Linked DNA regions of Homo sapiens: region 2 is reported to be linked to region 1. The links are microRNA targets in miRTarBase. Many come from high-throughput screens and were not tested one by one. Region 1 holds a microRNA gene; the other region holds the end of a gene's coding sequence.
The links. Region 1 holds the annotated microRNA hsa-miR-548at-3p (CAAAACCGCAGUAACUUUUGU, at 3,718-3,738, shown strand). A microRNA usually pairs through its seed, bases 2 to 8, with sites in the 3' UTR of a target mRNA and lowers its output. Matches are read on the target gene's strand: a 7mer-m8 pairs with bases 2 to 8, a 7mer-A1 pairs with bases 2 to 7 and ends in A, and an 8mer does both.

Region 1 (5,000 bases):
AGAGACGGGGTCTTGTTATGTTGCCCAAGCTAGTCTTGGACTCCTGGGCTCAAGGAAGCCTCCTGCTTCAGCCTCCCAAAGTGCTGGGATTACAGGTGTGACCCACTATGCCTGGCCTTTTTGTTCATTGTTTCTTCTAATGCCTCACTTTAAATGCTGTTGAATAACTGAATTAAAATTAAAGATGTTAATCCTAGCACTGTTTTTTTAATTTAATTTTATTTTTAATTTTTTTTGAGACGGAGTCTCGCTGTGTCACCCATGCTGGAGTGCAGTGGCGTGATCTTGGCTCACCGCAAGCTCTGCCTCCCAGGTTCACGCCATTCTTCTGCCTCAGCCTCCCGAATAGCTGGGACTACAGGCACCCGCCACCATGCCCGGCTAATTTTTTTTTTATTTTTTTTAGGTGAGACAGAGATTTACTCTCGTTGCCCAGGCTGGAGTGCAATGGCACGATCTCAGCTCACCACATCCTCTGCCTCCCAGGTTCAAGCGATTCTCCTGCCTCAGCCTCCCGAGTAGCTGGGATTATAGGCATGTGCCATCACGCCCGGCTAATTTTGTATTTTTAGTCGAGACGGGGTTTCACCATGTTGCCCAGGCTGATCTCTAACTCCTGACTTCAGGTGATCTGCCTGCCTCTGCCTCCCCAAGTGCTGGGATTACAGACGTGAGCCACTGCGCCCGGCCATTTTTTTGTATTTTTAGTAGAGACAGGGTTTCACTGTGTTAGCCAGGATGGTCTCGATCTCCTGACCTCATGATCCACCCGCCTTGGCCTCCCAAAGTGCTGGGATTACAAAGTGCTGGGTGGCGTGAGCCACTGCGCCCAGCCAATCCTAGCACTTTTAGAGGCCGAGGTAGGAGGATTGCTTAAGCCCAGGATTTCAAGATCAGCCTGGGCAACATAGTGAGACCCCATCTCTATTAAAAAATAAATAAACATGTTGACACCTCAGATCTTGTGTACTCCCTGTGAAGAGGTGCTCATTCTGGCAGGGCATGGTGGCTCACGCCTGTAATCCCAGCACTTTGGGAGGCTGAGGCATGTGGATCACATGAGGTCAGGAGTTTGAGACCAGCCTGGCCAACATGGTGAAACCCTGCCTCTACTAAAAATACAAAAATTAGCCGGATTTGGTGGCATGCACCTGTAGTCCCAGCTACTCGGGAGGCTGAGGCCTGAGAATCACTTGAACCCAGGAGGCAAAGGTTGCAGTGAACCGACATCATGCCACTGCACTCCAGCTTGGGCAACAACAAAAAGATGCCCATTTAATGTAAGGGGCAGGTTTACTGTCAGGTAGCGTTCCTTTAAGAGTTCATCGGCTGGGCCAGGTGTGGTGGCTCACGCCTGTAATCCCAGCACTTTGGGAGGCCGAGGCAGGTGGATCACCTGAGGTCAGGAGTTCGAGACCAGCCTGACCAACATGGAGAAACCCCGTCTCTACTAAAAATACAAAATCAGCCAGGCATGGTGGCTCTTGCCTGTAATCTCAGCGACTCGGGAGGCTGAGGCAGGAGAATCACTTGAACCGGGGAGACGGAGGTTGCCGTGAGCCGATATTGCATTATTGCACTCCAGCCTGGGCAAAAAGAGTGAAACTCTGTCTCAAAAAAAAAAAAAAAAAAAAGTTCATCGGCTGGGCGTGGTGGTTCATGCCTGTAATCCCAGCACTTTGTGGGGACAAGGTGGAAGGATCACTTAAGGTCAGGAGTTCGAGACCAGCCTGGCCAACATGGTGAAACCCTATCTCTACTAAAAATACAAGAAAATTAGCCAGGCCTGGTGGTGCATGCCTGTAATCCCAGCTACTCAGGAGGCCTAGACAGGAGAATTGCTTGAACCCAAGAGACAGAAGTTATAGTGAGCCTAAATTGTGCCACTGCACTCCAGCCTGAGTGACAGAGCAAGACTCTGTCTCAAAAAAAAAGTTCATGAGACTGGATTCTTTCATGTGCCCTCACAGCCCTAAAACACCTGGACTTCTCTAGCAAATCATTTGCAGGAACTGTTTTAAGCAAAATGTTTCTTCTAAGATGTCTGATATTTTTAAATGGCTTTTTTTTTGGCTTCCCTGTTCCAAGGTTAGACAGAAAAAATGTAGCAAGTATTGGCCACTTTAGGTACAACACAGATTTCTCCTATATTTGGAGAGTTAATTATTAAATCAAGAGTGTGAGTATTCATTTTCAGTTGGAGCCCTATGGAAGAACTGCTTTGCTCTGGGCTCTCTCCATCTGTACGTTATCTGATATTTAGCTTTATATCACTGGGACATGGTTGCTGCACAAAGAGAAGACAGCTGGCCTGCCCTGGGAGCAGGGTCCCACGAGTTACAAGAGAGTCAGAGAACAAACCAATGTTGTCAAGGTTACACCTTCATTTCCACTGTTCTTTGTTTGAAATGTTATCAGAGCTGCCAGGCACAGTGCCTCATGCCTGTAATCTCGGATATTCAGGAGGCTGAGGTGGGAGGATTGCTCAAGGCCACAAGTTCAGGACTAGCTTGGGCAAAATAGTGAGATTCCATCTAAAAAAATATTATTTATCAGTAATTTTAAAACAAAATTAACTGGGCATGGTGGCACATACTTGTAGTTCCAACTGTTTGGGAGGCTGAGGTGGGAGGATAACTTGAGTCCAGGGGTTGCAGGCTGCAGTGAGCTGTGATGAAACCACTGCACTCCAGCCTGGGTGGCAGAGAAAGACCCCATCTCTCTTTTAAAAAAAGTTATCAGTAGCTCAAATTTCATTAGCTACTTTGTGAAGATGTGTTGATTCTGCCATGAAAGATTTTCTCTGAGAGTCCTATCTGTCTGGCAGCTGGGGAGTAAGTCACCTTATATTGATCTTAAGATTATGGAAGCCTGGGCACGGTGGCTCACGCCTGTAATGCCAGCACTTTGGGAGGCCGAGGCAGGTGGATCACTTGAGGTCAGAGTCGGAGACCAGCCTGGGCAACATGGTGAAACCCTGTCTCTACTAAAAATACAAAACTTAGCTAGGCATGGTGGTGGGCACCTGTAATCCCAGCTACTCAAGAGGCTGAGGCAGGAGAATCACTTGAACCTGGGAGATGGAGGTTGCAGTGAGCCAAGATTGAGACATTGCTGGCTGACAGAGCAAGACTCCATCTCAAAAAAAAAAAGGGGGGTGGGTATGGAAAAGAATGTAATATTTGTGGAATTGCTATGGTTTAATGTACTTTGTATTTTTCTTTTTTTGGTTTCTTCATAGCTCCGTATACTATTATCACGTTCCCTTTTCTATTTGCTGTGATGTTTGGAGACTTCGGTCATGGCATTTTAATGACCCTTTTTGCTGTGTGGATGGTACTGAGGGAGAGCCGGATCCTTTCCCAGAAGAATGAGAATGAGGTAATGTTTAAGTTACATCTGCATTGAACTGAAATTTTATAATTTCCCAAGCATTCATTATGAAAATTATGATCTGGAAGTCTTTTATCCATGAATTTATCAAAAGGAAGTAGAGAAGTTATGTTCATTTTAACACCAAAGACGACATGTGCAAGCTGGAAGTGGTAGTGTGTGCCTGTAGTCCCAGCTACTTGGAGGCTGAGGCAGGAGAATCACTTGAGCCCAGGAATTCGAGACCAGCATAGGCAACATAGTGAGACCCCATCTCTAAAAAAATAAAAATTATTTAGGTTTGGTGCAAAAGTTATTGCGGTTTTGGCTGCCAAAAGAAATGGCCAAAACCGCAGTAACTTTTGTGCCAACCTAATAAAAAAATAGAGGCCACATCCTGTGAAAGTGACTGTCTCATTAGCATTGTATTTTGGTTTTTACTTCAAGCTCTCTGAATCAGGATGGGGTAAAGTAGTGCTGGAGAAAGGGGCAGGTATATTCTGAATAACATTGTCACAATGTGAGCTGCAGTGAGTACATTCTCATTACTTCTTTCTTCTGGTTCCCAGATGTTTAGCACTGTGTTCAGTGGTCGATACATTATTTTATTGATGGGTGTGTTCTCCATGTACACTGGCCTCATCTACAATGATTGCTTTTCCAAGTCTCTTAATATCTTTGGGTCATCCTGGAGTGTACGGCCGATGTTTACTTATAATTGGACGTAAGTTGCAGAAGAAGCTAAAATTCAAAGCTTATTCCTTTCATGTGCAGCCCTGATTTTTAAGACAAGTGGTAAACTGACACTTCTTTAGGAAGTGGTGACAGTGTCTCCTCATTCATGCTCCACACTGTGAGTTGCTTTGTGATTTGTTCAGCAAGTATCCAGGAACTAAGATTAGAAATGATTTTTTTTTTTTTTGGAAACTAAAACCAGATTCCCCAGTTCCCTACTTGATTGTGTGTTTGTGTGTTTAATTTTTCTTTTTGTCATTTTGGATCCCTCAGTCTCAGCTGCTAGTCTCTCCTCTTTATTTTTCCCCTCCCATTTTATTGAAGAGACAAGATAGCTACAGTAATTTATTTTGGGGTCAGTTTCTGGACCCTTGTTGTTTCCCTCTCTTGTTCAAAAATAATGTGACTTTTTCCCTGTCATGGTAGTGAAGAGACGCTTCGGGGGAACCCTGTTCTACAGCTGAACCCAGCCCTCCCTGGAGTGTTTGGTGGACCATACCCTTTTGGCATTGATCCAGTAAGAGGACTTCCTTCCTATATGCTAACCTCAAATTTTTTAACACTAACCCTGAAGCAAGAGAATTAAAATGAAGATAAATAGTTATGTGGGCTTTCACTGGGCATGGTCGCTCATGCCTGTAATCCCAGCACTTTGGGAGGCCGAGGAGGTGGGATCACCTGAGGTCAGCATGGTGAAACCCTATCTCTACTAAAAATAAAATATTAGCCGGGCGTGGTGGCGCATGCCTGTAGTCCCAGCTACCCGGGAGACTGAGGCAGGAGAATCGCTTGAACCTGGGAGGCAGAGGTTGCAGTGAGCAAGCTGCACTCCAGCCTGTGTGACAGAGCAAGACTCCGTCTCAAAAAAAAAAAAAAAAAAAAGAAAGAAAGAA
Region 2 (5,091 bases), not on the chromosome of region 1:
TATGATGGTAATCTTCAGTTTAGGTCTTGGTGAAATAATTTCAAGCCTTAGCCATTGGCATTTGGTCAGTATGTGTATGTAGTGTACTATGAATGTGACTCAGCCATATACTACAACTGAGACAAGGCAATCACCAAGGTCACATACCTAGTACAACCCCATCTCCAGGCCACCCATTTACCAAGTTTGTGGCCCTCATGTAAGAGGTGACCAAGATGCACCTGCACCAAGAGCACCAAGAGGATTGTCTCAATCCTTAAGAGAAAGAAGAAGGTAAGGGCTGGGGATGAGGGGTGCACTTAAACCAGAAATGAGACATGGCCCTCTGTGGCTAGGATCCTAACTTCAGATTGCTAATTTATCCCATTTTACTTAGGCCCAAAATGACAGGCTGAATACTTTTATTGGAAATGAAACATTCCAGAGTTAGACATGTTTACTCTGGACAGTCAAGGACAGCGATGTGTAGGGAAAGTTTGGTTCATGCAAAAATGAATGAAATTTTAATACACTTAAAGTTACTTCTCACTCTGAAAATAATACCAAAGTAGAGTCAATAAATATTAAATTTCCTTCCAATTCCACAGGACCAATTAACGAAAAACATAATTTTTGTACTACAGAATAAAAATTTTAAAATCTCAAATATTTTTTCCCAAAGGCAGAGGTCATGGCAAATCTTCGGAGAAAGAGAGCATTTTGTCTATTTGAAAATTCAGGCTCAGGCCTTCAAATGAAATGATGGTTCATGCTGTCATTTCAAGTGACTACAAAGAAGAAATGAAAGAAAGATGTAAGGAGTCACTACTTTAAGGATTATTCACAAAAGTCTTAGGAATAATACAGGTGAAGTCTCAGAAAGGCAAGTCCTTATAACAGAATGGGCATGGATCATGTACTAATCAGTAGGTTACAATTCACTACCTTACAGAATTTGGGCTTCATTTAGAAGGCCTGATGGTGTACAACAGACTTTACATTTTCACATTAATGCAAGAGCCTATCAGTGAATTCATGTTCATTTCCTTTATTAACCAGCCTACATTAGATTTAATTTGTGAACTCTGCTATATAAGCAAAGAAGAAAGCAAGCAAGCACATGATCAGAAGAGAAAAAGAGCTAGATAGCCCATAAGGCTCCTAGAGGGAACTTGAGCACTCCTCATGACAGAGACACAGATGACACACTTCTAACTTCTCAAACATGCCAAGTTTGTGCTTGCCTTCTGGGTCTTTGCCTTTATTATTCCTCCCCTCAGCCCACTTGTGGTTCCTTCTAATCCTTCACGTACCAGCTCAAATGTTTTCTCTTACACAGATGACACTTTCTTCTAACACTTTCTTCTAAAGTAGTTTCACCACTGCCTCCCCACATTATCCTGTATACTTTCCAGTCACCATCAGAAGTTTGCTCATGGCTGGGCGTGGTGGCTCATGCCTGTAATCCCAGCACTTTGGGAGGCTGAGGTGGGTGGATCACCTGAGGTCAGGAGTTCGAGACCAGCCTGGCCAACATGGTAAAACCCCATCTCTACTAAAAATACCAAAAATTAACTGGGCGTAGTGGCGGGCGCCTGTAATCTCAGCTACTCAGGAGGCTGAGATGGGAGAATTGCTTGAACCCGGGAGGCGGAGGTTACAGTGAGCCGAGATCAGGCCATTGCCCATTTCCTGGGCAACAAGAGTGAAACTCCGTCTCAAGAAGCTGGTTTGTTTATTGTATACCATCACTAAAATCCAAGCTCAACTATAAAAGGGTCACCTTTTTGCTCACCATTACATGCAGGCATCTAAAAATACTTGCTTAAATAAGTGAATGAAAAAGCAGCAGAAAGGAAGCAATTTTACTTCTGAAAAATTATTCTAAAAAAATAACAGGTCAACTTTACCAAGATATAGATATACATTTATAATAATGAAAAGAAATTGTCTAAAAATCTATCCAATCTATCCAAATGAGTATTTTCTTTTTTTTTTTGAGACAGTCTCATTCTGTCATCCAGGCTGGAGTGCAGTGGTGTGATCTCAGCTCACAGCAACCTCCTCCTTCCGGGTTCAAACAATTCTTCCACCTCAGCCTCCCATGTAGCCAGGATGATAGGTGTGCACCATCATACCTGGGTAATTTTTGTATTTTTAGTAGTGTCAGGGTTTTGCCATGTTGGCCAGGCTGGTGTTGAACTCCTGACCTCAAGTGATCCATCCGCCTTGGCCTCCCAAAGTGCTGAAATAGGCGTGTGCCACTACGCCTGGCCATGAAATTGTTAAATTAGTTATGGTATCTATAAAGGTATTAAAAAGAATATTAAAGACATTTTTTCTACTACTGAGTGAAATAAGCAGATTACAGGCCAGTATGTATGGTATGATCACATTAATGTAGAGAAAACAACAAAAATAGTATGTTGTTGTGTAAGTTTAGAAGAAAATAAAACAAACAAGATATTAAAAATAGTAGTTGTCAATTTACTTTTAACTTTTTCCTCCAAGTTACCTTTGCCACGCCTCCTCCCCCGCCTTTGCTGTATGAGAAAAAATTTGGACAAAAACTTCAGGTGACTATGAGGAGCGATTTTTTTCTCAGCCTAGCAGTGGTAGAGAATGCCTTATTTTCATCCTTATGCCCTTTCACATATGATTCCAAAGTGTACATATCCAAATTCCTACTTTACCTCTCCAGAGATCACTGCCAACAAAGTTATTACCTCTCTAAGATCCTAATATTTCAAAACAAACGGCATTAAATCTTAGTTTTGACTGCTCACTGTGTAAATCAGACTATTTCAGGTCTGAACTATGCCATTTTAAAATTTCCCTTTTTAAAAAATCTTTATGGAACAAGTACAATTTTTCGACAGATAGTGACAACTACTCCCTACTTTAAATATAGGCTGGACAAATCATACACAAAATAATAGCATAATCTCATAGTACTTCAATTTCATTCTACTCTCTATGTTTGAAGAAAGAAAAACATTATAACTGAGTTCACAGCAGCCTTCTTTTATCTTAACACAAGTTACCAGTGTATACATAAGAAGCTGTGAACAGAAGCTCTTTATGATATTCATATACAAAGCTGCTGAGAAACAGCCTCAACAATGCCAATCAAAGAGCAAAACATTGGGTTAGTTTTCAAACTAAATGAGCTGCTTTGCCCTCCATGCCAACTATTAAGCAATAGGCCCTTTTATGTCTTTCCCATTCATTACTGACTAATGCAGCAGTTCTCAACATTCTCACTAGTCCCATGATCACTCAATTTTTTTTCCCTATTCTTTTAAATAACTCTATTTGGTTACAGATAAAATGAGCAAGTTGACAGCATACAAGTTTTCTTTAAGTTCTTAATTTTTAAGAAGTATTGTGTAATTTTATTTTCTAATTTTGGTATTTTTTTCAATAAAATGTTTTTTAAAACATTTAAACAAATCATATAATAGCTGACCTGGTATCGAATGCTGTACTTAGACATTCCTAAACCATTATTTTTTATATTTCAAACTAAGTTTAAACAAAAACTTTATTATTATTGAACGAATATCCAAGGATCTTAAAGAAATCAATCGAAGTGTGATACAGTCTAGTGTTTATTTTATGTTATGGCAGGTACACTTGAATTTCAAAAATTTAAAACATATATAAAAAGTGGTTAGGGACTAACATTTGTATCAACAGTTGATAAATGTCTAAGATTGTTTATTATACAGCAGGGTACAATGGTAGTGCTAATGCCAACAGGGCACCATGGAAGTTAGTCTAAAAATTATCGCTAGGCTTTATACAAGCAACAACATATGCTGCTGCTCTTAGAATTTTGGGAAATGATCTGCTTCTAATACTAAGCAGTTCTTTAACATTTTTAAATGTTATACAGTGTTACAGTATTTAGTTTGGCAAATGTTTCAAAATAAAGTAGAAATGTATTCATAACATCACAGAAATGCACATCCAATGTTGTTTTCAATAAGAACCATAGGTACAGATCAGAACTCTTCCCTATATGAAATAATTTACACACAGATGAATACTATAATATCACTATCTAAAATAATCACTAAATACAGTTCTTTTTCAGAAATAAACAAGCAAAGATTTTTTTCATTATCAAATATCAAAAACATGTTGATAATGTATGTTTTTCAAATAAATGATACTTTAAAATTATAGGAATAATCTCAGTGAATTCAGTGAATGTGCAACCTAAATCAACCAAGTATACTGTAGTACAACCATATTAAGAAACCAATGATCAGAAAATACAACCGTATGAAAGAAATTTATAATCCACAAAACTTTTTCAGGTCTTAAGGTAAAATAGTTCCACAGTCTACAGGTAAAACCAAGGCAACAAAAATGCGTGCTTATCTTGATTAAGTAGGTAATTTTATGCAGAAGATGTAACACTTTGTTTGTAGACAGCATGGTATGCATTTCTCAGCAAGACATAAGGAAAACAAGATTCCAAAAGATCCATTGTAAGGAATGGAGATTCTTGTACAATCTGTAAAATTCAAAAAATCCATCAAAACAAGTTATTTATAACTTGTTTATAAACAAAAATCATAAGTTATTTATAATGGGAACATTTATTGACAACCAGTAAGGCATAACTTCTATATTGTTCTTATTAGCAATAGACACATATTATTTTCCTTTTACTTAATCTAAAATGTAAATGTGCCACAGTGAATGTATATCAAACTGTTTAAAAAGAGCTACTTTTCAATTAAATTTATTTAATCAACAGGAATATATTGAGCACTTTCATTTTCCTCACTGATATACTAGAAATAAAAGACAATACAAAAATATTTTTTTTTTGTACTATCAACTCTACCTGGCAATCAAAGACTAAGCTAGGAAGCAAAACCAAACATAAGACCGACTATAATGAAATGGAAAGCTGTAAATTCTGTAAGAATTCAAAACAGAAGAAAGATTAATGTAGGCCAAAGTAATCAAGAAAGACTATCTGGAAAAAGATTTGAGCTGTGGGATGTGCTAAGTCATTAGGATAAATCCAATTTCTGCAGGTAAGGAAAATAACTCTAAGTGGGGAAAGAGCCACGTGGTAGAAACAAGCAAGAG

Region 2: miRTarBase lists NCKAP1 as a target of hsa-miR-548at-3p. Seed matches in the 3' UTR shown: 7mer-A1 at 4,338-4,344 and 7mer-A1 at 1,519-1,525.

What each region holds. Positions count from the first base shown.
Region 1 is chr17:42,491,093-42,496,092 of GRCh38, forward strand. It overlaps MIR548AT (microRNA 548at), which reads left to right and starts at 3,681; the gene lies at 3,681-3,738. ATP6V0A1 (ATPase H+ transporting V0 subunit a1) reads left to right here. Exons shown (of 22, transcript NM_001130021.3): 12 at 3,242-3,381; 13 at 3,942-4,096; 14 at 4,534-4,624.
Region 2 is chr2:182,921,315-182,926,405 of GRCh38, forward strand. NCKAP1 (NCK associated protein 1) reads right to left here. Exons shown (of 31, transcript NM_013436.5): 31 at 1-4,504. The coding sequence ends at 4,388. Among named protein-coding and RNA genes, the nearest start is that of FRZB, 57 kb to the left of the region's middle.